2 linked regions of the Homo sapiens genome follow. The protein of the gene in region 1 purifies or fractionates together with the protein of each later gene. This does not show direct contact. Each region holds a gene or a part of one and is shown on either strand. Other genes may lie near its edges.

What was found.
Region 2: the proteins of C11orf54 (region 1) and COA7 purify together in Homo sapiens (co-immunoprecipitation; 2 studies listed by BioGRID and IntAct, with this or other methods). This does not show direct contact.

Annotation. Positions count from the first base shown.
Region 1 is NC_000011.10:93,758,415-93,762,336, reverse strand, and holds part of C11orf54 (ester hydrolase C11orf54), read right to left. Parts: intron 2,596-3,922; coding exon 2,479-2,595; intron 823-2,478; coding exon 649-822; 3' UTR 1-648. UniProt on the Homo sapiens protein: Exhibits ester hydrolase activity on the substrate p-nitrophenyl acetate, in vitro. Regulates DNA damage and repair by regulating HIF1A degradation via chaperone-mediated autophagy (CMA).
Region 2 is NC_000001.11:52,691,638-52,695,559, forward strand, and holds part of COA7 (cytochrome c oxidase assembly factor 7), read right to left. Parts: intron 1,231-3,922; coding exon 1,090-1,230; intron 1-1,089. UniProt on the Homo sapiens protein: Required for assembly of mitochondrial respiratory chain complex I and complex IV.

The sequences.
Region 1 (3,922 bases):
TCAACATTTCTAAACACTGATTTTTCTTTTTCTCTTTTTCAAATGTTTTTTAATATCCTGCAGGTAATAACACTGATTTTTCTAATACTCAGAAACATCTACTTAGCAGTTGTGATACTAATTTGCAAAATGTAATAATGTTATACAAATATAAGATACTACTAAATACATAGTAGAAATAATTGCATGATTCCTGATATTTATATTCAAGGTATAAACATGACTGATTTCGCTGATACTACAGAATAAAAAAAATAAAGCTGCTATGTAAAAAATTAAAGAATATCTCAATTAGATATTTTTGTTCCCAATCTCTTTCAGACAGATCTATGAAATAATATAGAATATACTATCAATATGTTCTTTCATATGAAGTGAAAAAAATGGGATTTAAGTAGTGAGATAATTTCTATTTTTTACTTTTTTAAAAAAATAGACAGGGTCTTGCTATGTTGCCCAAGCTGGTCTCAAACTCCTGGGCTCCAGTGTGCTTCCTGCCTCAGCCTCCCAAAGTGCTGGGATTATAGGCATGAGCCATTGTGCCTGGCCTGTGGGATCATTTCTATTGGTTTTATATCAGTATTAATTAATAAGTCAATCAATTAATTAACCTTAATTATTTCTTTTTCTAAATAAGTATCAGCTGATTTAATCTCGCCCAATTGAATGCGTCTCTTTTGGTTGATCAATGCGATAGAGAAACTCTGCAGGTAAGAAGTATCCAAGATATTCCACTATATCTGGAGTAGTGTCATAATGGTAGTGTCCACCTTCTCCATGACGACTAAAAAAATGAGTGTGCTCCAGTCGCAAATCAAACCCCTAAGATAACAGACAAACAATATGTTAGTACTCAAATTATTGATTAGAGTTTAAGGGGGAGGGATAACTTTTTACGTTGCAATAGTTTTTATTTTTTAAATAGGTAATACATTCACATGTTCTAAATTCAAAGGGGGCAAAACGATGTATTCAGTAAAATGTATCTTCTTCTCTCTTGCCCTCACCACTCACTCCCCTTCCTAGCAGGTAACCAGTGTAAGCATTTTCTTGTATATCCTTCCATAAATACTTACTTTTATTTTTACTCAAATGTAGTATTTTGTACACACTTTTCTGCATGTAACTTTTTTTCATGTAACAATATAGTTTTGAGATCTTTGTATATGAAATCATAAAAGAGCTTCCTCATTCTTTTATACCTGCATGGTATTCTATTGCGTATGTAACTTCTCAACTGACACTTGCATTATTTCTAATTCTTTTGCTACTACAACAATACTGTAATAATAACCTTTTAACTAGTAATTTTACACAATTATGCATATATTTAAGTATAATATCCTAGGCATGTAATCACTGGATCAAGATATGACCAGGGTAGGCGGAGTAGCTCATGCCTGTAATCCCACCACTTTGGGAGGCTGAGGCGGGCGGATCACTTGAGGTCAGGAGCTCGAGACCAGCCTGGTCAACATGGCGAAACCCTGTCTCTACTGAAAATACAAAAATTAGCCGGGTGTGGTGGTGAGTACCGGTAATCCCAGCTACTCAGGAGGGTGAGGCAGGAGAACCACATGAACCCAAGAGGCGGAGGTTGCAGTGAGCCGAGATTGCATCACTGCACTCCAGCCTGGGCAACAGAGCGAGACTCTGTCACAAAAAATAAAAAAAAGAGAAGATATGACCAATATTTTAGTAGGTATTTGCTTTGAATTGGTCTGTAATATTTTTTCTAGCGTATAGTATTATAATATAATGAACACCAAACAAGATGACAGGAGACCTGAATCCTAGTTGTGACTCTACTAATTGTTTTTTTTGAGATGGGGATTATACTGTTACCCAGGCTGGTCTCAAACTTCTGGGTTCAAGTCAGCCTCCTCAGTAGCTAAGAATACTGGGGCATGTGACCATGCCCAACTACACCTGCTATTTAATAAAATAATTTTGGGTGTTATTTAAAATGCTTGTGCCTTCATTTTCTCAAAGGTAAAATCTGCTCTGCCTAACTCATAGGATGGTGAAGAGCTCCCTTATCTTCCAAAATAATTCTAGAGGCTACCCTCATTCTTAAATAACAACAACACATGGCCGGGCATGGTGGCTCATGCTTGTAATCCCAACACTTTGGGAGGCAGAGGTGGGTGGATCACCTGAGGTCAGTGGTTTGAGACCAGCCTGACCAACGTGGTGAAACCCCGTCTACTAAATATACAAAAATTAGCCAGGCATGGTGGCAGATGCCTATAATCCCAGCTACCCGGGAGGCTGAGGCAGGAGAATCGCTTGAACCCAGGAGGCGGAGGTTGCAGTAAGCTGAGATCCTGCCATTGCACTCTAGCCTGGGCAACAAGAGTGAAACTCTGTCTCAAAACAACAACAACAACAAACACAAAAGTGCCTAGTTCTTAAAGATTATCCTAAAAATCAAGCATTATCATTGTAGTATAATATAAAAAACAGACACAGACTTACTGGGTCTCTGGAGACAAAAACTGGTAGACAAACCAAAGGAGCTTTCATTTCATAAAAATGCAACCATTTATTCACTTCTTCATCAGAGTTCAAGGGGCAGGAAGAAAATTCTGCAGGCTACAACAAAAGATAATTACATAGGTAAACATACTGAATATTACTAAGAATTAAAAATTTTAAAAATATATTTTACTTATTTATTATTATTGTTTAATTATACTTGAAGTTCTGGGTTACATGTGTAGAACATGCAGTTTTGTTATATAGGTATACACGTACCCTGGTGGTTTGCTGCACCCATCAACCTGTCACCTACATTAGGTATTTCTCCTAATGCTATCCCTCCCCTAGTCCCCCACTCCCCGAAAGGCCCCGGTGTGTGATGTTCCCCTCCCTGTGTCCATGTGTTCCCATTGTTCAACAACCCACTTATGAGTGAGAACATGGGGTGTTTGGTTTTCTGATCTTGTGATAGTTTGCTGAGAATGATGGTTTCCAGCTTCATCCATGTCCCTGAAAAGGACATAAATTCATCCTTTTTTATGGCTGCATAGTATTCCATGGTGTATATGTACCACATTTTCTTAATCCAGTCATTTGAGTTGGTTCCAAGTCTTTGCTATTGTGAATAGTGCTGCAATAAACATATGTGTGCGTGTATCTTTATCACAGAATGATTTATAATCCTTTGGGTATATGCCCAGTAATGGGATTGCCGGGTCAAATGGTATTTCCAGTTCTAGATCCTTGAGGAATCACCACACTGACTTCCACAATGGTTGAACTAATTTACACTCCCACCAACAGTGTAAAAGCATTCCTATTTTTCCACAACCTCTCCAGCATCTGTTGTTTCCTGACAGGGTCTGGCTCTGTCACCCAGGCTGGAGTGCAGTGGGATGATCACAGTGGGCCTGGAAAAAGCACCACAAGTTTCCACTCTGGTGTGTGGGATTGGCAGCTGGGCCCCCAGCCTTCAGGCCTTCCCTGGCCCGAAAGTGGGGCCTCACCGGAAACCCGCCCCCTTCTGCCCCGGAACCTGTCTGCCTCCTGCTGCCGATCACGGAATCCAGGCTGTAGGTGCCAAGGGGTGCCTGAAGGCCAGTGGGGAGCTGCTCTCAGCCGCCGCTCAGCTTCCCTTCTACGCTCGTGTCAGCGCCCCAAATCCAGAAGGGGCCGGGACGGCAGGGGGCTGGTGTGTCAGCAGTGCCCTGAGCGTGTGCACACCTGGCTGGGCTGCGACAGCGACCGGGCTCTGCCTGACTTTGCTCCTGGATCGGAGCAGGCGCCGACAGCAGGGAGAAGCCAGGCAGTGGGAGCAGGCATTTCCAAGCCTGTAAGAGCAGTGGGGGCCTTCCCAGACCCCCAAGAATGCAGGAATGCCTGGGTCCGCAGCCACGGTTTGGGCAGCTGCAGCTGTGTGGAGAAGGCAGGGCTCCTGCCT
Region 2 (3,922 bases), on another chromosome or scaffold:
ATTTTTTTTTGTATTTTTAGTAGAGATGGGGTTTCACCATGTTGGTCAGGCTGGTCTTGAACTCCTGACCTCATGATCCACCCGCCTTGGCCTCCCAAAGTGCTGGGATTACAGGCATGAGCCACCGTGCCTGGCCTGTGGTGGTTTTAAATATGTCCATAAGTTCTTTAATATTCCTTCCTCTTCAAGAAGTGGAATTTAAGTCCTTCCCCTTAGTGTAGGCTACATCTAATAAATATGTGATAGAAATGAAAAGTGTGTGACTTCCAAAGATAGGTCATAGAAGACACTGTGGATTCTATCTTGTTGTCTCCTTTAAATTACTCACTCTGGGGGAACCCAGACGCCATGTCATGAGGACACTCAAGCAGCCCATGGAGCGAACCATGTCATGACGATCTGAGCTCTCCCAATAACAGCTGGTAAGGAACTAGAGGCCTCTGCTACCAGCCATCAGAGTGAGTCATCTTAGAATTGGAAACTCCAACTTCAGTCAAGCCTTCCAATGTCTCCAGCCCTGGCTCCCTGGCCAATGTCTTGACTATAACCTCATGAGATACCCTGAGGTACCCCCACTAAACCACTCCCAAATTCTTGACCCACAGAAACTATTGAGGTGAACAAAAATAACTATTTTGTTATTTAGCCATAGATAATGTAAACACTATGCCAGTGATAACTACAATTAGAGTACAAGGAGAAAAGACAGAAGGAAGACAATAATTACTGACCCCTTACTCTGTGCCAAGCACATGCTGATGCCTTTTCCTATGCTGTCCTACTTAATCCTCACCACCCTACAAAGCAAGTACTATTTCCCTCCAATTTACAGGTGATGTAACTGAGGCACAGAGTCGAAGTGATTGGCTCAAGGTCCCACTACTTGCCAATAGCATTCCCTAAGGTTTACCTAACTTGAAAGGCTGTGTTCTTCCCCCCATCACTCTGCTGAACTCCTACCTCTCCATCTTCCTACAATGCACTTTCCCAATGCCTGCGAGACCCTTCTGCAAGAGCTTATCATGGGGCTCAGGTGTGAGGCCAGCACTGCTATCAATGACAAGGACCCAAAAGGCAGGCCCTCCTTACCTTTTCCAGTCACATAGTAGGCCCCCAGTTTGTAGCAGCTATCACTGTGCTGGTTCTCTTCACAGTTAAACTTCAACACCTTGGCAGCCTCATCAAAATTCTTCCGGATCCCTTCCAAATAGTCCACCAGCCGATAGCAACCTGCGAGAAGAGGGCAAGGGTTGTTCTTCATGTCTGGGGCTGCTGCTCGCAGTGGGGACTTGGGGGTAGGGGGTGCCCAGGTGTGGCAGGCCAGGTGATGTCTTTTAAGACAGCCCCTGTCCTCCTGATGTGTGGCAAGTTGGCCTTACCACAAAGAATGTAGGTGGTGTTTAGCCATTCCTACAAATGGCATTGTCTCCCCACAGCCATGGACTGAGCAATGCATGGCTTGGGGAGACCTCAGCCCCTGCATTGGCTCTACCACTCACCAGCCCTTCTGCTCCCTGTCAGCCACGCCCAAGTATCCACTGACTTCCATGATTGAAACTTTGCTAGTTTTGGAATCTCTCATGAAGTTAAATGGTAAAAACAGTGAAAACCTAAAAGGCTCATAGGCTAGTCTTTGTAGCAGCAAGAAAAGGGTGCTGGGCCAGGCTCGGTAGCTCATGCCTGTAATCCCAGCACTTGGGGAGGCTGAGGCAGGAGGATCACTTGAGGTCTGGAGTTCGAGACCAGCCTGGACAGGGTAAAACCCTGTCTCTACTAAAAATGCAAAAAAATTAGCCAGGAGTGGAAAAATATAAAAAAATTAGCCAGGTGTGGTGGCGCACACCTGTAATCCCAGCTACCTGGGAGGCTAAGGCAGGAGAATCGCTTGAACCCAGGGGGCGGAGGTTGCGGCGGGCCGAGATCACGCCACTGCACTCCAGCCTGGGTGACAGAACGAGACTCTGTCTTAAAAAAAAAAAAAAAAAGAAAGAAAGAAAAAGAAAAGGGTGCTGTAATGACTATAGCTTACTCCTCAGCCAGGGTAGGAACATGAAAGCCAAAGAGAAAGAGTAGAGGCGGCAGCTTCTAATGAAAATAGGCTCTACTTCCTTGGCAGTCTCCCAGTCCCAGTAAACCTCTTTCCTTAATCTCTCTCCCCTCTTCTTTACCCCCAGTGACAACATATATCTCTCATTCATTTTCGTTCAACAAATATTTGAGCATCTCTATGCATCTATGTACCAGACATGGTTCTAGATGCTGAGAATATACTCATTTGCCCTCCTAAAATTTACATTCTAGGGGAGGAAATACAATAAATAAATAAATGAACAAAATTTATTCAAACAGTAATAAATGTTATAACAACTCAGAAACAGGAAGTGAAATACTGCATGTCCTCACTTATAAGTGGGAGCTAAATACTGTGTACACATGGACACAGGGAGTGTGGAATAATAGACACTGGAGATTGGGAAGGGTGGGAGGATGGTGAGGAATAAAAAATTACCTAACAGGTACAAGTGCATTATTTGGGTGATGGTTGGTTACATTAAAAGCCCAGACTTCCCCAGCAATTTGGGAGGCCGAGGCAGGCAGATCACCTGAGGTCGGGAGTTCTAGACCAGCCTGACCAACATTGAGAAACCTCGTCTCTACTAAAAATACGAAAATATTAGCCGGGCATGGTGGCGCATGCCTATAATCCCAGCTACTCGGGAGGCTGAGGCAGAGAATCACTTCAACTCGGGAGGCGGAGACTGCGGTGAGCCGAGATAGCGCCATTGCGCTCCAGCCTGGGCAACAAGAGCAAAACTCCATCTCGAAAAAAAAAAAAAAAAAAAAGCCCAGACTTCACAACCAGGCAATATATCCATGTAACAAAACTGCACTTGTACCCCTTAAATTTATACAAATAAATACATAAATGCTATGACTGAAGTAAAACAGGATAACTGTTTGCTGTCAACTTTGGGTGAATGGCTAACAAAGACTGAGCCACTGGGGAGGGGCTCACCAAGGACTGTGACCTCAATAACAAGAAAGCACTAGCTATTTAAAGACAATGAAATGGGAGTGGGGCAGGGATTTGGAAAAAATTTAAAAATAAAAAATAAAAAATGAAATTAAAAGACAATAAAATGGGCAGGGGCACAAAGTCCTGGCACAAGGAACAGTAAATACAAAGACCTGAAAGAATAAGTTTGGCACGAATAAGGTACAACATGGCTGAACCAAGGAGGAGGGTCAGGAAATGAAGAAGGAAGGTAGGGACCAGACCATAGGCCTCGTGAAACATAGGATGGAGTTATGATTTTTTCCAACTGAAACAGTAAACCACTGGAGGGTTTCAAGAAAATAAGTAATATGATTCAGGCCAGGTGTGGTGGCTCATGCCTGTAATCCCAGCACTTTGGGAGGCCAAGGCGGGTAGATCACTCGAGGTCAGGAGTTCTAGACCAGCCTGGCTAACATGGTGAAATCCCGTCTCTACTAAAAATACAAAAATTAGCCAGGCTTGGTGGCGCACGCTTGTAATTCCAGCTACTTGGGAGGCTGAGGCAGGAGAATCACTTGAACCCGGGAGGCAGAGGTTGCAGTGAGCTGATATCGTGCCACTGTACTCAAGCCTGGGCAACAGAGCAAGACTCAGCCTCAGGGAAAAAAAAAAAAAAAAAAAAAGCCAGGCGTGGTGGAACACGCCTGTAATCCCAGCTACCTGGGAGGCTGGGGCAGGAGAAGTACTTGAACCTGGGAGGCAGAGGTTGCAGTGAGCTGAGATTGCACCACTGCACTCCAGCCTGGGCGACAGAGTAATACCCTGTCTCAGAAAACAAACAACCAAAAAGCCACCAAAACCAAACAAACAACCCCACCCCCCAACAAAAACGTTACTCTGGTATATATGTTCATATATGCCTGA